Linked DNA regions of Homo sapiens. The protein of the gene in region 2 interacts with the protein of the main gene of each other region in a biochemical or structural test. Each region holds a gene or a part of one and is shown on either strand. Other genes may lie near its edges.

The links. The genes of interacting proteins can lie anywhere in the genome.
Region 1: the proteins of NXF1 (region 2) and NUP98 form a complex in vitro, tested with the Homo sapiens proteins (5 studies listed by BioGRID and IntAct).
Region 3: the proteins of NXF1 (region 2) and NUP214 form a complex in vitro, tested with the Homo sapiens proteins (4 studies listed by BioGRID and IntAct).

The regions. Positions count from the first base shown.
Region 1 is NC_000011.10:3,696,521-3,703,554, forward strand, and holds part of NUP98 (nuclear pore complex protein Nup98-Nup96 isoform 1 precursor), read right to left. Parts: intron 6,373-7,034; coding exon 5,943-6,372; intron 4,320-5,942; coding exon 4,090-4,319; intron 2,829-4,089; coding exon 2,562-2,828; intron 1-2,561. UniProt on the Homo sapiens protein: Plays a role in the nuclear pore complex (NPC) assembly and/or maintenance. NUP98 and NUP96 are involved in the bidirectional transport across the NPC. May anchor NUP153 and TPR to the NPC.
Region 2 is NC_000011.10:62,791,630-62,795,474, forward strand, and holds the end of NXF1 (nuclear RNA export factor 1), read right to left. Parts: intron 3,379-3,845; coding exon 3,306-3,378; intron 2,812-3,305; coding exon 2,629-2,811; intron 1,143-2,628; exon of another isoform or gene 1,073-1,142; coding exon 1,012-1,072; intron 886-1,011; coding exon 847-885; 3' UTR 501-846; downstream 1-500. Other genes in the region: TMEM223 (transmembrane protein 223), read right to left, coding at 50-365.
Region 3 is NC_000009.12:131,226,586-131,233,619, reverse strand, and holds part of NUP214 (nuclear pore complex protein Nup214), read right to left. Parts: intron 5,461-7,034; coding exon 5,289-5,460; intron 2,991-5,288; coding exon 2,851-2,990; intron 1,337-2,850; coding exon 1,312-1,336; intron 167-1,311; coding exon 133-166; 3' UTR 1-132. UniProt on the Homo sapiens protein: Part of the nuclear pore complex. Has a critical role in nucleocytoplasmic transport.

The DNA of each region.
Region 1 (7,034 bases), about 59 Mb from region 2:
AAAAAAGGCCGGAGGCAGTGGTTCACGCCTGTAATCCCAGCACTTTGGAAGGCTGAGGCAGGCGGATCACCTGAGGTCAGGAGTTCGAGACCAGCCTGGCCAACATGACGAAACGGCATCTCTACTAAATATACAAAAGTTAGCCGAGTGTGGTGGCACGTTACCTGTAATCCCAGCTACTCAGGAGGCTGAGGCAGGAGAATCGCTTGAACCCAGGAGGCAAACGTTGTAGTGAGCCAAGATTATGCCACTGCACTCCATCCTGGGGTACAGAGCGAGACTGTCTCGAAAACAAAAACAAAAACAAAACAAAAAACAAAAAAAAAGGGGGGGAGTAGTAAAGCAAAAGCTTTTAGTAACCTAAAAGGCAGTACCTTTACCAGAGGTTTAGCCTTACAGTCAAAATAAACAGGAAGAAAGTGGAGTTTATGAATCAACAGCCCTAAGAATCTGACTCTGGCATGCCTTAAGATCCTCTCCTACTACATGTTGGTGTCCTGGTGAGCATAACCTTTTTTTAATGATTCATAATAAGTTCATACAAGATCAATCCCAAAGATAAATTCTCACTGTACAAATGCACAAAGACCATAAATAGTACCAGACGGAGGCTGGATGTGGTGGCTCACGCCTCTAATCCCAGCACTTTGGGAGGCTGAGGCAGGAGGGCTGCTTGACGCCAGGAGTTTGAGACCAGCCTGGTCAACATACAGACCCCATCTCTATTTAAAAAATAAAAAGAAAAGAAAACAGGAAGCTACCAGGCTAAATGTGTAGTGACAGTGGAATGCAACAAGCCCTTTATATAGCTTACTGATTCTGGCTTTTCCTGTGATTTGTTCCTTATAATCCCAAAAGTGGCAAAACTCTTCAAAATAAATCCAGTCGATGGCTCCAATTAGTTGGCTTTGGATAAATTAGGTTCCAACAATCAAGGTTTGAATAAGGATCTGATCATATTAGATTAAGCTGAACTATGCCATCCTGTATTCTTATCAAGACTTTATGGCCAGGCACGGTGGCTCATGCCTGTAATCCCAGCACTTGGGAGGCCAAAGTGGGTGGATCACTGGAAGTCACGAGTTTGAGACCACCCTGGCCAACATGGCGAAACCCTGTCTCTACTAAAAATAAAAAAAAAGACAACTAGCTGGGCATGGTGGCAGGCACCTGTAATCCCAGCTACTCAGGAGGCTGAGGCAGGAGAATCGCTTGAACCCAGGAAGTAAAGGTTGCAGTGAGCTGAGATCGTTCCACTGCACTCCAGCAGTCTGGTAAACACACAGACAGACTCTGTCTTAAAAAAAAAAAAAAAAAAAAAAAAAGATTTATATCTAGGCAGTCATTAAGTACTTGCTGAATTGCCTCATTAGTGAAAGGGAACTTAAAGAAGTAAATATATGCATATAAATTCCTTTTAAAAAGCCAGTGAGTACCTCAACCCAGAAATTCAACTTCTATATATTTATTTGAATGAATTGATATAGAACATATTTTATAGCAATTCAGAGTACTGTTTATAGTTTTAAAAAAAGTCTCAATGTGAAGGAAGAAATTTACTACTATGGTACATTTATACATAAAAGAATGCTAAGAAGTATTTGATAATTATCTGTATTACAGGGCATTTGTAATGTGCCACATGAAAAGAACAGAATATAATACACAGCAGGATATCACCTTTGAAAAGTTCACAAGCATATGTCACAGTGTCTGGACATATTTGTATGTATTACAAAGTAAAGAATTAAGTACAAATTGCACATTAAAATGTTTGCAGTGAGTAGTAGTCACAGGATTTGGGTGATTTTGATTGATAGCTTATCTATGCTTTCTAGTTTTATTACAAATGTAATATAAAATTTAAATTTTAATCAAGTAAACAATGTTTAAGGTCCTAAAAAAAGAATTAGAAGACATAGTTCGGCTGGGTGCAGTGGCTCACACCTGTAATTCCAGCACTTTGGGAGGCCAAGGTGGGTGGATCACCTGAGGTCAGGAGTTCGAGACCAGCCTGACCAACATGGTGAAACCCTGTCTCTACTAAAATACAAAAATTAGCCAGGTGTGGTAGCAGGCACCTGTAATCTCAGCTACTTGGGAGGCTGAGGCAAGAGAATCGCTTGAACCCAGGAGGAGGAGGTTGCAGTGAGCCGAGATCGCACCATTGTACTCCAGCCTGGGCAACAAGAGTGAAACTGTCTCAAAAAAAAAAAAAAAAAAAAAAAAAAGTCATGGTTCCTATTCTATAGGAATAGGTGGGTGTGATCTACCCACCTTGGCCTCCCACAGTGCTGGAATTACAGGCATGAGCCACTGAGCCCAGCCGCACTATGTCTTCTAATTCTCTGTTTAGGACCTTAAACATTGTTTACTTGATTAAAAGTTAAATTTTATGTTATATTACATATTCCACGGGAACCAGCAATCTTTCTGGGAAGTCCGCAATTAATACTCATAGGCTAGAAGCCAAAGGGAAATGCACAATTAGCGGGGAGCGGTAGGAGGCAGTGAGTAGGAAGGCGACAGAGGCGCAGAGAAGGACCATATGCCTTCCCCACCTGACTGCTGGGCCAGAGAGCAGGCCTCACTGATCCTTTTGCCTGTGAGGTAGCTGAATACAGCCTCCACAGGGCTGTTTTTTTGGGTTAAGGAGACTTCCTCTTCAATCTGAGGTGTGGCAGTACAGGATAGCCAGCGGGAGAAAGCTCTTCTTCGCTCCAGAATTTGAATGTATTCACGGGGTTCATTTAGCTGGCTGTCAAGCTCCTTCAGGTGGCCCCATAGGGCTTCACATAGTGTCCATGTCAGGCTCCAGTGCTTCACAACTAAGGCAGGAAGAGAAAAACAATGTTACGAGACAAAGTCTTACAACAACTTCACAGAGGGCATCCTTCTAACTGTGATGTTAAAAATACATAAATTAATAGACATCTCAAACAACCACTCAAGCTGATTACCCTGAATCTGTCTCTACCTCACTCAACTTCGTCTTACAATTTCCAGAAGTACATAGTATAAATAAATGCTTGCTCATATCATGTTTCTGTGGTACTTACATAACAAATGTAACCGTTAAACAGGTTCCCCAAGCCTAATTATGGCTAGTGTCATCTCAGATGATATCTACTTTGATCAAATTCTGTCTATAAAAATCAATCTACAAAAGTACTGTTTATCATTTAAGCCACTTACAAGTATGCACTGGTAAAATAACTTACACATTTGAAAAGACAATGAGACGATTAAGTAAATACAAAGAACTGAAGGAACATAAACAAATCTCAAAACGTGTGGCATAGGACATTCTAAAACAGCCCATTTTTCAATAAACGTGATTTGCTAAACAAAATGATTTTTCTACTGTTTGAAATATTAATAAATTAGATAACCCCTTTATCAAAGTATTGATTCAGAAAAACATGGTCATGATAGATGAGAAAGGTAATCTTGAAAGAAGCCAGGAAGAGGAATTACAACAAAGCTGTTGAGAAGACCAACAGTACTTGAGCTGGATATGGAAGAATGGATAGGATTTAGAAAAGCAAGAAGGGGCCGGGCTCGATGGCTCACGCCTGTAATCCCAGCACTTTGGAAAGTCGAGGCAGGCAGATCACGAGGTCAAGAGATCGAGACAATCCTGGCCAATATGGTGAAACCCTGTCTCTACTAAGAATACAAAAATTAGCTGGGTGTGGTGGCGCGCGCCTATACTCCCAGCTACAGTGACAGAGTGAGACTCCGTCTCAAAAAAAAAAAAAAAAAAAAAGTAAAGCAAGAAGGAATGTATTTCTCTCCCTATGTTCTCTGGATTAGGTAAGAAATTCAATTTTATAAATCCAAGGATTTGACTTGCTACAGTTCTTTGTGGAAGAATTTGTACATTAATGGGTAAAAGAACAAAGTGACAAGAACATAGTGACAATTTCTTCTTGCTTGGGAATCTGCTTAGTTAAACTCAACCTCAGAAAATGACAAGCACAGGCATTTACCTACTAGACTGGTGCCAGGAAATTCATCCTCCCGTGAACATACGCTACCACCACTATTATTGGGACATCAAACATTAGAAACATAGTGTGTACTCACTTTGTGCTTCTGGTAAGTCTCCTGATGCTTCTTTAACCCAATCTGCATAGTCATGAATGACAGCAACTCCCAGATTGGGGACAATGAGAGGACACAGTTCATCCACATGGACAGTGCTGTGTTTTAATTTGAGCTCCAGAGGTGTCTGATATAATTTCATGTCTTCATCTGGCTTTCTTTGTCTCAAACTGAGTTTTTCTAAGTGAACTTTGAATGGGGACTCAGTTAGGCTACAAGAGCAAATGAGGAATAGAATAGAAAATGAACCTAAGACAGAAGCTAGGATTTTTACTTCAACCAAACCACTGTTTCTTTTTATGATTACAAACGGAATGCAAACATTTCACTGTAGTTTTAAAGAAATTTTGTTTCTTAAACTATACTGAACTTATCTGCTATATACTGGGGAAAAAAAATCATCTGATCAGTGCATTCAGAACACAAAGGCTTCTTAGGCCAGGTTATAACAAGCATGAGAATCCTAACAGATTTAGAACTGGCTAAAACTCAAGGGCCAAAAGCTATTGTGGGATACCTGTTTCTCAAATTATACTTGGGTATCAAAAGTCATGAGGCTAAGCTTCTAGATACTAAAGAACTGATTCTAAATTACAATGAGCATATAGCTAAGCTAGGCTTGTTCCAATTTTTTTTTTTTTTTTTTTTTTGAGATGGAGTTTCACACTGTCGCTGAGGTTGGAATGCAGTAGCGTGATCTTGGCTTACTGCAACCTCTGCCTCCTGGGTTCAAGGGCGATTCTCCTGCCTCAGTCTCCTGAGTAGCTGGGATTACAAACATGCACCACCACCCTGGGCTAATTTTTGTAATTTTAGTAGAGACAGGGTTTTACCATGTTGGCCAGGCTGGTCTCGAACTCCTGACCTCAAGTGATCCTCCCAAAGTGCTGGGATGACAGGTGTGAGCCACCGTACCCGGCCCCTTGATCTAATTTTTAAGATTGATATTAATAACCTTCAAAATTCACAAGATAATGCTTAACCTAGAATAACTAAGTTTAGGATCAGTATTCTTAATTGTGAGGTTCAAGAGACATTGTTGTTTTTTCTTTTTCTTTTCTCTCTTTTTTTTTTTTGAGACTGAGTCTCATTCAGTTGCCCAGGCTAGAGTGCAATGGCGCGATCTCAGCTCACTGCAAGCTCCGCCTCCCGGGTTCACACCATTCTCCTGCCTCAGCCTCCTGACTAGCTGGGTCTACAGGCGCCTGCCACAACGCCCAGCTAATTTTTTTTGTATTTTTAGTAGAGACAGAGTTTCACCGTGTTAGCCAGGATGGTCTCAATCTCCTGACCTCGTGATCCGCCCATCTTGGCCTCCCAAAGTGCTGGGATTACAGGTTGTTTTTTATTTTTTCAAAGTCAACTTTAAAAATGAAGGATAGGCTGGGCAAGGTGGCTCATGACTGTAATCCCAGCACTTTGGGAGGCCAAGGTAGGACAATCACTTGAGCTCAGGAAACATTAGCTGGGTGTGGTGGCGTGTGCATGTAATCCCAGCTTATCAGGAGGCTGAGGCAGGAGAAGAGCCTCAGACTGAGAGGCAGAGGTTGCAGCAAGCTGAGATCGTGCCACCGCACCCCAGCCTGGGAAACAGAGCAAAACTGAGACTCAAAAACACACACACACACACCGGGGAAACAGAGCAAAACTGAGACACACACACACACACACACACACACACACACACTCTCTCTCTCTCTCTCTCTCTCTCTCTCTCTCTCTCTCTCTCTCTCTCTCTCTCTAGAAAGATGACAAAGCAGGGCCCTATCCTCCTGATTAGTTTTTTTCACCTATCATGTTGCCTTTCTCAAAAAGCATCAAGAAATGTGACTCACGGTTTAACAGCTACTGGATTGGGCAGGAATCCAAACTCCATGGAATCGGCAATCTGATGATTTTCTAGTTCATGAGAGCCATTCAGCTGTTCTCCACTATTAGCAAGAGTCCAGTTGGGGCCCCAACCAACACGAAATGAGCGTCCCATGAATAGGGCCATGTCCATCAAGAGTTTTCCCTTGCCATAGGTGACAGACTTTTCACGAGGGACTAGGCCTAGTTGCCTACGTGTACCCACTGTTTTCAACGGAACCTCAGGGGCTGGGCTGGGCATTGTGAACACAGAAGTCAGGGGTGGAGGGACAGACCAAGAGGATGTGGATGGGATATTCATTAAAGATGCTGCTCTGGGAGTACGACATTCTTGCACAGAGACACTTGGTGAAAGAAAAGCTCCACTTGTAAATTTTGATTGTAGTAACCCACCAACTGAAATGAAGCGGGAATGAAGGGGAGAAAGACTATTACAAAACACAAGCTATTGTTTCTTGAACAATAACAAAAATCAGTAAGGCTGAAATCATTCAATGTTTAATCAAACTACTTATATCAGATGTGGATGACCAGAAGCAGGCTAAGTCAGATTTTGCAGAAATTACTCTTTGAACTAGGAAATCAGGACAAGATTCTAATGATGATGATGATATCTACAACAATAATAAAAGCAACAACACTATTAATATTATTTAAAAATATGCAGCAGGCTCTGTATAAGTCATTTGTATATGTTATTTCATTTCACTCTTCAAAAACTTTTTTTTTTTTTTTTTGGAGACAGAGTCTCGCCCTGTAGCCCAGGCTAGAGTGCAGTGGCATGATCTTGGCTCACTGCAACCTCTGCCTCCTGGGTTCAAGCAATTCTCTGCCTCAGCCTCCCGAGTAGCTGGGATTACAGGTGCCCGCCACCATGCCTGGCTAACTTTTCTGTATTTTTAGTAGAGACAGAGTTTCACCATGTTGGCCAGGCTGGTCTTGAACTCCTGACCTCGTGATCCACCTGCCTCAGCCTCCTAGAGTGCTGCAATTACAGGCATGAGCCACTGCACTTGGCCTCAAAAACTTTTAAATGATTAGCATTATTATCATTCCTA
Region 2 (3,845 bases):
TGTCCCGCCACCCCACGTTGTCACAGTGGGAAGCCAGCCCACGTCTTACCGATGGCGCCGCAGCCGACGGCCAGACCGTAGCGCCAGAGCGCGGAGCGCAGGTCGAAGGGGCCACGATTTGGGACCTCCGCATCCAGAGGCTGCACCGGAACCGGGGGCCGGGACACGGCTGCCACAGCCATGGAAGCCCAGAAGACGCCCTGGCCCGCGCAGAACAGCCCGAGGATGGTGAAGAAGCGGCCCCGATCATGCTCAAAGAGCAGCACATCCCGTTGCAGCGTCGTGCCTTGCAGGGGCCGGCAGGTGAGCAGGGGCCGCAGCACGGCTAGCAGCCCCGTGGGCCATCGCCTCCAAGGCGCCGCCATGGCCAGCCGACTTCCGGGGTGGGGCTTCCTGCCGCAGAGCCGCCTTCCGCCCTCCCTGGGCGCCCCCGCTAGAGGGCCCGCCCCCCTCGCTCAGGGCTGGGAGGAGACAACCAATCCAGCACGCAGAACACGAAATACAACATCACTCTTTATATTAAAAAGTGCAGAACACGAAATACAACATCACTCTTTATATTAAAAAGTAAGGAGGTCCTGGGGTTAAGTACACAAAGCACCTAAGTCCTTCGGGTAGTTTAGTGTCAGTTCTACAAAGTAAGCTTTGGCTTCCTGGCACCAGTGAGGCTCAATCTTCTGAAGTCTTCCAGAAGGCAGGCGAGGAGAGGGATCAGGCAGCCCTCCCTCCCTCGGTCACAGTCACGGGGCGGCCTCGGGCCAGACAGGAGGAGATGACAGACGACAACCAGACGGTAATATCCAAGGACTATTTACAGGGGGGACTGCTTCTGAGGCATGACTACGATCACTTCATGAATGCCACTTCTGGGATCTCGCCCTTGGCCTGGAGAAAAATGAAGGTCAGTAGAGGTAGGCCTACCCTCGCCACTCAGCAACCCCACTCAGCTAACCTGACCTCCTGGAGGCCCAGAGATCCTAGTCTTTTTGCCACTGTATTTCCAGACCTTACCTTGAGATGAGTGAAGGCCTGGGCAGATCTGGTGTAGTCCCAGTTGTTGTCCTGAAGGCACCTGGAGTGGAAGAACAGGCAGCTCTGTAAGAACTCTGACTCGTAAATGCCAGCTGAAAGTCCACTCCATAAAAGCACCCAAGTTTGCCAACAAATATGTACATTCTTATACATCCTTGCACTATTTATACAAATGAGACATTAGTAAAAGTCCAGATGTTCTACCAATGGCTTCTCAAAGATAAGGAATATTAAATAGCTGTCAAGAAGCTCAAGATAGTTTTTACAGTGGTAGGGAAAGATGTTCATGGTGTAAGTAAAGAAACTAAGTTGCAGAACAGTATATGAAAAGGAACTTCCATTTTACCTTTAAAGTTTTTTATGTTAATTTATACACAGGCAAATTTTTTATAGACTATCAGGTTTGTGTTTTTCTGTTTGCTTTTTTTTTTTTTTTGAGACCGAGTCTTGCTCTGTCACCAGGCTGGAGTGCAGTGGCGTGATCTCGGCTCACTGCAACCTCCGCCTTCCAGGTTCAAGCAATTCTCCTGCCTCAGCCTCCCGAGTAGTTGGGACTACAGGCGTGGAACGCCAAGCCCCGCTAATTTTTGTATTTTTAGTAGAGACGAGATTTCACCATGTTGTCCAGGATGGTCTTGATCTCTTGACCTCGTGATCTGGCCGCCTCAGCCTCCCAAAGTGCTGGGATTACAGGTGTGAGCCACCTCTCCCAGCCAACTATTAGGTTTTTTTAAGCAGCCAAAAGTTTTGCCTTTTAAAATTTCAGGAGCCCAGGCACAGTAACTCACACCTATAACCGCAGCACTTTGGGAGGCCTAGGTGGGCAACATGGTGAAACCCCATCTCTGCAAAGAAATACAAAAAAATTAGCCAGGTGCTGTGGCCTATGCCTGTAGTCCCAGCTACTCAGGTGGCTGAGGTGGGAGAATCACCTGAGCCCTAGCAGTTGAGGCTGCAGTGAACTGTGATCACACCACTGTACTCCAGCCTGGGCATCAGAGTGAGACCCTGTCTCAAAACAAACAAGCAAATAAAAATTTGGCTGGGTGCAGTGCCTCATGCCTGTAATCCCAGCACTTTGGGAGGCCGAGGTAGGCAGATCACAAGGTCAGGAGTTCGAGACCAGCCTGGCCAACATGATGAAAGCCCGTCTCTACTAAAAAAAAAAAAAAAAAAAAAAAATACAAAAATTAGCCAGGCATGGTGGTGTGTGCCTGTAATCCCAGCTACTCGGGAGGCTGAGATTGGAGAATTGCTTGAACCCGGGAGGCAGAGGTTACAATGAGCCAAGATCGCACCACTGCACTCCAGCCTGGGCAACATAGCAAGACTCCACCTCCAAAAAAAAAAAATAATAAAATAAAATAAGGTGGCACATGCCTATAGGCCCAGCTACTCTGGAGGCTGAGGTGGGAGGACAGCTTGTGCCCAGGAATTAGAGGCTACAGTGAGTTATGATCACCACTATACTCCAGCCTGGATGACAGCGCAAGAACTTGTCTCCAAAAAAAAAACAAAAAAACTGTCAGGAGCCCTCATTATTTACTACTAGCCCTACTTCAGTGCATCCCCATCCTACACATGCCCCGCACTCACTTCTGGGACCACTCGAGGTTCATGCCAGACTGGGTAGAGAATGCTTGCAACATTTCCTGCTGCTCTGGAGAGAGGGTGGGCACCGGGCTGGAGGAAGGCGTGGGTGCAGGCATAGCGAAGGCTCTTTGGATCTCTTCAGAACTGGCATTCCGCACAAATAGCTCATCATTTACAATACATAGCCTTGAGGACAAAGAGCACTTAAAAAGCTAGACAGAGATAACATCATCCTCCCAACATCATTCCTATTCTCTGATTCTTTCAATATCCACAAGGTCCCCCTCCCACTCTTAGCTATTGTTACCTTTTATCATTTATCCCCTCCCATGGAATCAATGTTTGGAAGGATTATCTACTAAACACACTAGGGTTCTCCCAACGCATGGACTTTAGCTCTTTTAATTCATCCTCACAACAAACTTAGGAAATGAATATTGTTATATGAATTTTCAGATGAGGCAGCAGCCTACTTGCTAGAAGTGGTGGAGCCAGGATGAAAACCCAGACGGTACAATTCCAGAGCCAAGCTATTAACTGGCTCTTAACTACTATGTGAGCTTTCTCTGATTTCCTGTTGCCTTTCTGAAATCACCCCAAAGACTGACTCTACCCTCCAATTACCACACTGTTGGCCATGGATTAGGACTGGTATCCAATGCGAAAAGCAGAATACTTACCCTGAATTGCTAGCAGGAACAGCAATGAATGTCCGGGTGAAGGCTCGCAAAGAATCCCGGGACTTTCCGTCCACTGCAATAAGAACAGCAACAACACCTTAGGGTCACTAGTGCTTTATGTTTACAAACAGCTTCTTGAATCATGGTCTTTGATATAAAGAATCCTAGCAAGTCAGAGAGGAATGATTAAGTATATAAGGGTATAAGGGAAGCACAGGTGGGGTGAAGGGTCAGGTCAGAAAGGACAATAGTAATAACTACGGCCGGGCACAGTGTCTCATGCGTATAATCCCAGCACTTTGGGAGGCTGAGGTGGGCAGATCACGAGGTCAAGAGATCGAGACCATCCTGTCCAACATGGCGAAACCCCTTCTCTACTAAAAATACAAAAATTAGCTGGGCGTGGTAGTGCGCACCTGTAGTCCCAGCTACTCGGGAGGCTGAAGCAGGAGAACCACTTGAACCCAGGAGACGGAGGTTGCAGTGAGCCAAGATTGCGCCACTGCACTCCAGCCTGGTGATAGAGTGTGACTCCATCTC
Region 3 (7,034 bases), on a different chromosome or scaffold from region 2:
TTTCTGTTGTTTCTTTCTGGGTGTATGTGTTTTGATGGCAACGTCGGTCTGAACAGCCTGCTCCAGCATTTCTCGGGGAAGAAGCTGAGGATGCGGTTGGTCCCAGGGATCGAAAGGCCTGCTGACACGCCCTCAGCTTCGCCAGCCACCAAAACCCTGGACAGACCTGCAAGGAAGCACAGGACAGTGGTGGAGTCAGCTGCTCTGTCACAGAGCAGTCACAGGCTCTGCTGCTCTGCCTGTGTGCAAAGGTCAGGACTCAGATTTTTTATTATTATTTTTTTGATACAGAGTCTCACTCTATTGCCCAGGCTGGAGTGCAGTGGCGTGATCTCAGCTCACTGCAACCTCTGTCTCTCGGGCTCAAGTGCTTCTTTTGCCTCAGCCTCAGTGGCTGGGATTACAGGCATGCACCACCACGCCTGGCTAATTCTTGTGTGTTTATCTATATATGTATATATATATATTTTTAGTAGAGATGGGGTTTCACCATGTTGGCCAGGCTGGTCTCGAACTCCTGACCTCAAATATCTGCCCACCTTGGCCTGCCAAAGTGCTGGGATTACAGGTGTGAGCCACCGTGCTTGGCCAGTATATATATTTTTTTCTTTTGATATAGGGTCTGGCTGTCACCCAGGCTAGACGGTAGTGGTACCATCTTGGCTCACTGCAGCCTCAACCTCCCAGGCTCAAGTGATCCTCCCGCCTCAGCTTCTGGAGTAGCTGGGACCACAGGCATAAGCCAGCATGCACGGCTAATTTTTTTAATTTTTAGTAGAGATGGGGTCTCACTCTGTTGCCCAGGCTGGTCTTGACTCCTGGGCTCAAGCAATCCTCCCACCTCAGCCTCCCAAAGTGCTGGGATTATAGGCGTGAACCACCCACCTGGCTAAGACTGAATTTTAACGCCATGAAATTTTACACAGAAGCACAGAGGGTGGATCAACACATGAGACCTGGTGATGGCCCAGAGCCCAGGGGTTAGCATGCAGCTTCTGAGAAACCTCCAGGGAAGTCAGGAGCAGCATCTCCTCAGCGCTGCCCTCAGGCCCAGCTCACTGGCAGGCGTGCTCTTTTCTCTTTGAACCACGCCTCTTAAGAAGGCGAGGCCTGGCACCTCCTGCCATATTGCTACAGAGAAGAGCAAGTCCACAAAACCCAAACCCTGCTGCTGAACCCCCACACTTCCAGGACAAACTCTAAAAACAGGAAAAAACGAAAAGAAAATGCACAAATCCAGCAAGATCCACACACTTCCAACCTTATTTAATGCTTTTAATTAAGGTGAGACTCAAAAAGGGGGATACTTACGAGTTATTTGACCCAAAGCTGAACCCTGAAAAGCAGAATAAGAGTGAAGTTAAAGCACGCATCCACTCGAAAGACAAAGGTGGTCCCCATGCTAAGTGTCTGCCCTCCTCTGTGCTTCTTGTGGGAAGCCCTCCGTGCCTCCACCACCTACAGGAAGGCAGGAAAGGTACACACAGAAGCCCCTTTATTCTGAGTTTGTCCTCTGGAGCTACTCAGATCCCCCAGAAGGCAGAAAAAATCCTTTACTTTTTATGAGTTATCTTCTTGGTATTTTAGGGTTCTTCCTCCCTCCTCGGCCCCAGCTGTAGGCAGAGGGTCTCTGGCTTGGCCTCTCAGCTGTACTGGACCACATAGATCCATTCATTAGGAAAACCTTTTTTTTTTTTTTTTTTTTTTGCTGTTGTTGTTTTTCCATCCATTTGCTTCCTCTTCTTTTTGGGGGCCAGAGAAGCAAGATGGCTGGATTCTAGGCCTGGTTCTACTGCTAACTGCTAACACTTAGTTCCTTGGAGTTTCTGTTTCTTCACGGGTACAATTGTAATGATACCTAAATTCTGTGCCTTGTCAGTTTACTGCAAGAACAAAATGGAAGACACATATTCTGCCATCTGAAGAAGCAGAGTGTTAAACAAATGCAAGATGTTTTGTGAAGTTTCTATGCCTTTTTTTTTTTTTTTGAGTCTGCTGGCTTAGATTTTTTAAACCAAGGCCTAGTAAGACCATTATTATTTTGGGCTTCTCAAATCCTGAGAGGAAATCAAGACAGTAATTTCTTTGGTAAGAAATGACACAGTGTTCTAAGTCTAACTAAAACCTAAAAAAAAATATATATGCCAGGTGCTGTAATCCCAGCACTCTGGGAGGCCGAGGTGGGTGGATCATGAGGTCAGGAGATGGAGACCATCCTGGCTAACACAGTGAAACCCCATCTCTACTAAAAACACAAAAAATTAGCCGGGCCTGGTGGCGGGCGCCTGTAGACCCAGCTACTCAAAGGCTGAGGCAGGAGAATGGCGTGAACCCGGGAGGCGGAGTTTATAGTGAGCCGAGATTGTGCCACTGCACTCCATCCTGGGCAACAGAGCGAGACTCCGTCTCAAAAATATATATATATATATATGTTTCAACCACTTTCAGTATGTTACATATTTATTTATTTTGAGACAGGGTCTCATTCTGTCACCCAGGCTGGAGTGCAGTGGTGCAATCACAGCTCACTGCAGCGCTCAAGTGATCCTCCTGCTTCAGCCTCCCGAGTAGCTGGGACCACAGGTGTGTGCCACCATGTCTGGCGAATTTTAACATTTTTTGTAGAGAATGGAGTCTTGCCATGTTGCCCAGGCTAGTCTCAAACTCCTGGGCTCAAGTGATCCTCCTGCCTTGGTCTCCCAAAGTGCTGGGATTACAGGCGTGAACCACGTGCCCAGTCAGCTTTTAAAATACTAAACAGACTGGTCAGGTAAAACATACTCATTTCTTTGGGGGAGAAGGCAAGAGGGACCCATTTTGCTTGTGAGGGGAGAACTTGTGGCAGCTTACCTCCTGTGCCTGATCCAAAACCAGAGAATCCGCTACTCTGGGTCCCAAAACCAGAAGTCTGTTGGGACAGTGATCCGAAAGTGGGGGCATTCTGACTCGCGAGCGTGCCGAAGGATGTGGTGTTGCTGCTGCTCCCAAACCTGCGCTCCAGTGAGAAACAGACTGAGGTCAGTGGGGCCTCTCACCACTTGCCCATCTGCAAGCCTCAGCCCCCTGCTGTAAGTCCCAATACACACGACACTCATGATCCAGGGTGACAGGCTGGGCCTAACTAGCAGCCTTTCAGAGAGAATGAGCTATCGCCCAGGGCCAACTTTTATCTCTGCTCTAGGAAGAAAAATGGCAGGACTACAGTATGAAATCCAACCTGGCCAGTGTTTTAGTTTCCATCCCCCATTGGAACACCAGGGCATTTGGGAACTATGCAGTACACAGTTCCTGCTCTACCTCCAACAATCCTTAAGCTTTATTCTATCATTTTAGCATTTCTCACTTACCGACCATTCCCCCACATCCTGCTCCCATTTATTTATCTTCAGCTCCTCTTGGGATCTTGATTCTATTTACTTTTTCCAAGTCATTTCATTCAGGATTTTGTATTTGCTTCCTGAATCAATAATTACTACCCAAACCAATGTAAAAGTGGCCACTATTTTCCTTCCCCTGCTCGCCCCACCTGGAGACAATCCCCTGTGCCCCCTCACTCAGTTCTCCCTCCAGATATGGTCCAGCACACAAGGTGGCACTGTGTGACCTATCAGAGCCCCTTGAATTGTTTGCAGAGGAACTCGGCTGGGTTGGGGAGAGCTTCTGGGGTCTGGAGGTGACTAGGTGAGGGAAACGGATCAGTGGTTTCTGGGAGAAGGGGCAGCACCTGGGGGCAAGAATCAACCCCAAAGCAAGAAAAAGTATCTAAAACTCTGCCTTCCCACCATTCTATTCACTTTTAATGGTGAGGTCAAGGCTCTTTCCATACAAAGGTGGCCAAGGGATCTGCTCTCATTGGACTTTCTCCCAGGAGCGGCCTGCTCCCTTCCTCCTCCTGCCTTGGGCCTCATCAGCAACAGCCTGCCCTTCAGGGTCGGAGACAGGCTCATGGCCAGGGACCTGGAAGAAGGTAATGGGCTCTTATGGAGATTTAATAACTGACCTGGCATTAACCTTTTTTAGGACTGACTAACCAGCCAATCGGGATTTGTGTGAGAGCCGCCCCAAGGCAGAATATACTTTTCTACTAGTAAAGAAAACAGCTGGTTTCAAATAAATAAATCAATTCACAAGATACCCAGCCAACCCAAACCTTCTACCAACTCTGTGGTACTGTGTGCTGGTTCATCACTGCAGAGAACAGCATCCATTAAGACCTCTGAGAATACCAGCCTAAGTGGGTCTCTAACTGTCCTTTCAAAGCTTTCCTTAACTTTAATTCTTGGGGTTTCCTGAGGGCAAACCTAAGGCATCAGTCTCCCGTGAAACAGGAGAAGCAGCACGCCAACCCTCTCACTCCTGCTGCTGCGCTCCAGCATCTTGCACGGAGGGGAAGGGTGTGAGTAAGAACATACTATAGTTTATTTTCAAGATAAAGATGCTGTCATCTTGCCAAGACTCAGATCCAAGTATCTCAACAATTCCCCTAGACAAAATCATCTCCCCTCCCCCAAACCTTCAGCTCATGCTGAGCCCAGTACTGCGGCAAGAGGCGTTTTAGAACTCCTTTCAGGCATCGACACCTCCTTTGAACAAGAGACTTGGTAGTCATCCCGTGTACATTTTTTAAATTGGGATGTTGTGGTGTGGTGAAGGTTTTTTTCCCTTGGGGTTTTGGCAACCACACTGAAATTCTGCCCTTAAAAGCGACTCCCTAAAAATGGCCTTTTCCAGTGCAGACGCACACGAGGCAATGAGAGCAGCTTCGAAATCCCTGATCATCCAGGATCTTCCCACGGGAGGACCTGTGCAACTGAATACTCACTCTGGGGGGCTGCAGGGGAGCAGGGGACACAGGGAGTTGTTTGTTCAAGGACAACGGGTCTAACACAGAATAATCCCAAGAGGAAAGAATCTGGTGAAAACCATTCATTGAGGACTTCCTAACAGAAGCTCCACACCGGGGCACCTCTTGGCTACAAAGCAGTAGTTAAGGCAGGGCTGGTGCCTTCCTTTAGCCCCAGCAGGAGAACAGGGGCTCTGATGACCAGCATTTCTCATACCAGGGAACAGCAACACAGCTGAGGTCCACCATGAATTCAACAAAGCCTGGCTTGAACGAAATGAGTCTTACCCTGGAGAGGTACAGGAATCCTTGAGGGAGTTGTTCACAAATTTCAAGGGAGGGGCCTTCACCTCATGGTCAAATTTCTTTTCAGAGCAAGAGTACAGGCCCCTAGTGCTTTTTGGCTGGCGTGTGGGTTCCCAAGGGCCCTCCCCAGGGGGCTTACCCGAATCCTCCTGCGCTGGCAGCTGCAGTGCCCTCTCCGAACACTTTGCCTCCCGTCGAGCCCAGAGGGCTTGTAAAGGCTGGGGCTGAACCGAATGCTGGCACCCCTCCAAACCCAGGGGATCCCCCAAAAGTAGGAGGGCTGCCAAACACTGGAGCAGCACCGAAGCCACCTGAGCAAAACAGAGGCAAACAAACAGAAATAGGGAGAAAGAAAGGAGGAGACAGGAAGAGAAGACATTGAGCAATGAGAAACCAAATCAAAATAGGAAGAAAAAAGGGAAAAGAGGATGTTAGCAATTCAAATGCAAGAACTAGAGTAAAGGGCAACACCCCCCCTCCCCCCCGCCCTTCTATCAAGAAAATAGTAATGAAAACAACAAAACAAAAGCCCTCAAACCAAACCACTCCCCTCCATTCCTAGCAGAGGGCTCTGGGGTCCACTCAGGAGAGCTCCTGCAGACCCTGTGAAGTCACTGTGAAGCCGTGTGAGCAGACCTCCAAGAGCCCACTCGGTGCACCTTCCACCCCTCCCAGGTCCTCTGAGCTGTTTGGAGTGAAAAACCATTCTCAAAAACTCCAATCCCTACCTAGCTGACAAAAGATGACAGACTATATTACTTATCAGTACACAGGCAAGACATCCAGCTTCATAGAAACCCAAATTATAAAATCAGAGGCTCAAAACCTCCTCTCAGGGAGAATCCCTGAATTGGGTCATAGCAGAGACAGAGACGTGTATGCTGGCGCCCAGCCAGGTGCTTTTTATTTATTTACAGCCTGATGGCTCCTACGTCTCTCATCAGAGTCTCCCTTTCTCTCGCTCAGTGGAGGTTTGTTTTTTTTTTTTTAAATGCTTTTTTCCTGCAGTCTGGAATTACTTCCCAATGAAAAAACACACCAAATTTCTTCTTTGGAGGCAGGCTGCTGCATAAATCTAATAAAATAATAAGTCAACAGTGAGGACAGCCCTAGAGTTCAGATGCCTTCTGCAACGTTGCCAACACTGCTGCCCAGTGGGCTCAGGCTGCCAGAGGGCAGCACCACACAGGTGGCCACACAGACAAGGGTCAGGTCACGCACAGGGCACCCTACTCTGATTGCTGGTGATGCCTGTCAGGCAGGAAGACAAAACATCCTCTCCTGAGCTATTCCTGATGCGGGTTCCCAAACTTCCAAGATACTGCTGAAATCATTCTAAAGTATTAGAATAGACACTCAGTGAGTGTCTTCTTGAATGAATGGAATAGAATGGCATAAGAAATGTGCTCTAACTGGGAGCACCCTCTAAAGGGAGTACTTCTTAAGGTGAGTGTTGGCCTATGAACTGCGTGCTAGCGGGAGTAATGGTGGCCTAGCGACAAGCCTTTTCTCCCCTTTCAGAAAGTCAATCTGTTGTTAGAGGGATGAAATCCAGACTTCTTATTGTTTATGTAATCACAACACAAGCTTCTGCCATCTGAATCAGGAAAGATCAAATCCTGGGTATGAAAAGTTGTCAGCTGAATCCCTCAGTTAACTGTTATTTTGTGATTCACTCATGTGCCTATTTGCCATTAACAGTGGTAGGCTGCACAACTGAGAAGATACTTTTTTGCTAAGGCTCGTGTTTGGGTTAACATTCCGCATGTTAAAACACTGAGTGAAATTCCAAGCCATGATAATGGAGACTGTTGGGTTATAAATATAACAGACTGGAAAAAAAAAAGTGCTAAAAAACCCTTACAGTTGAATTATTTAAGACTGA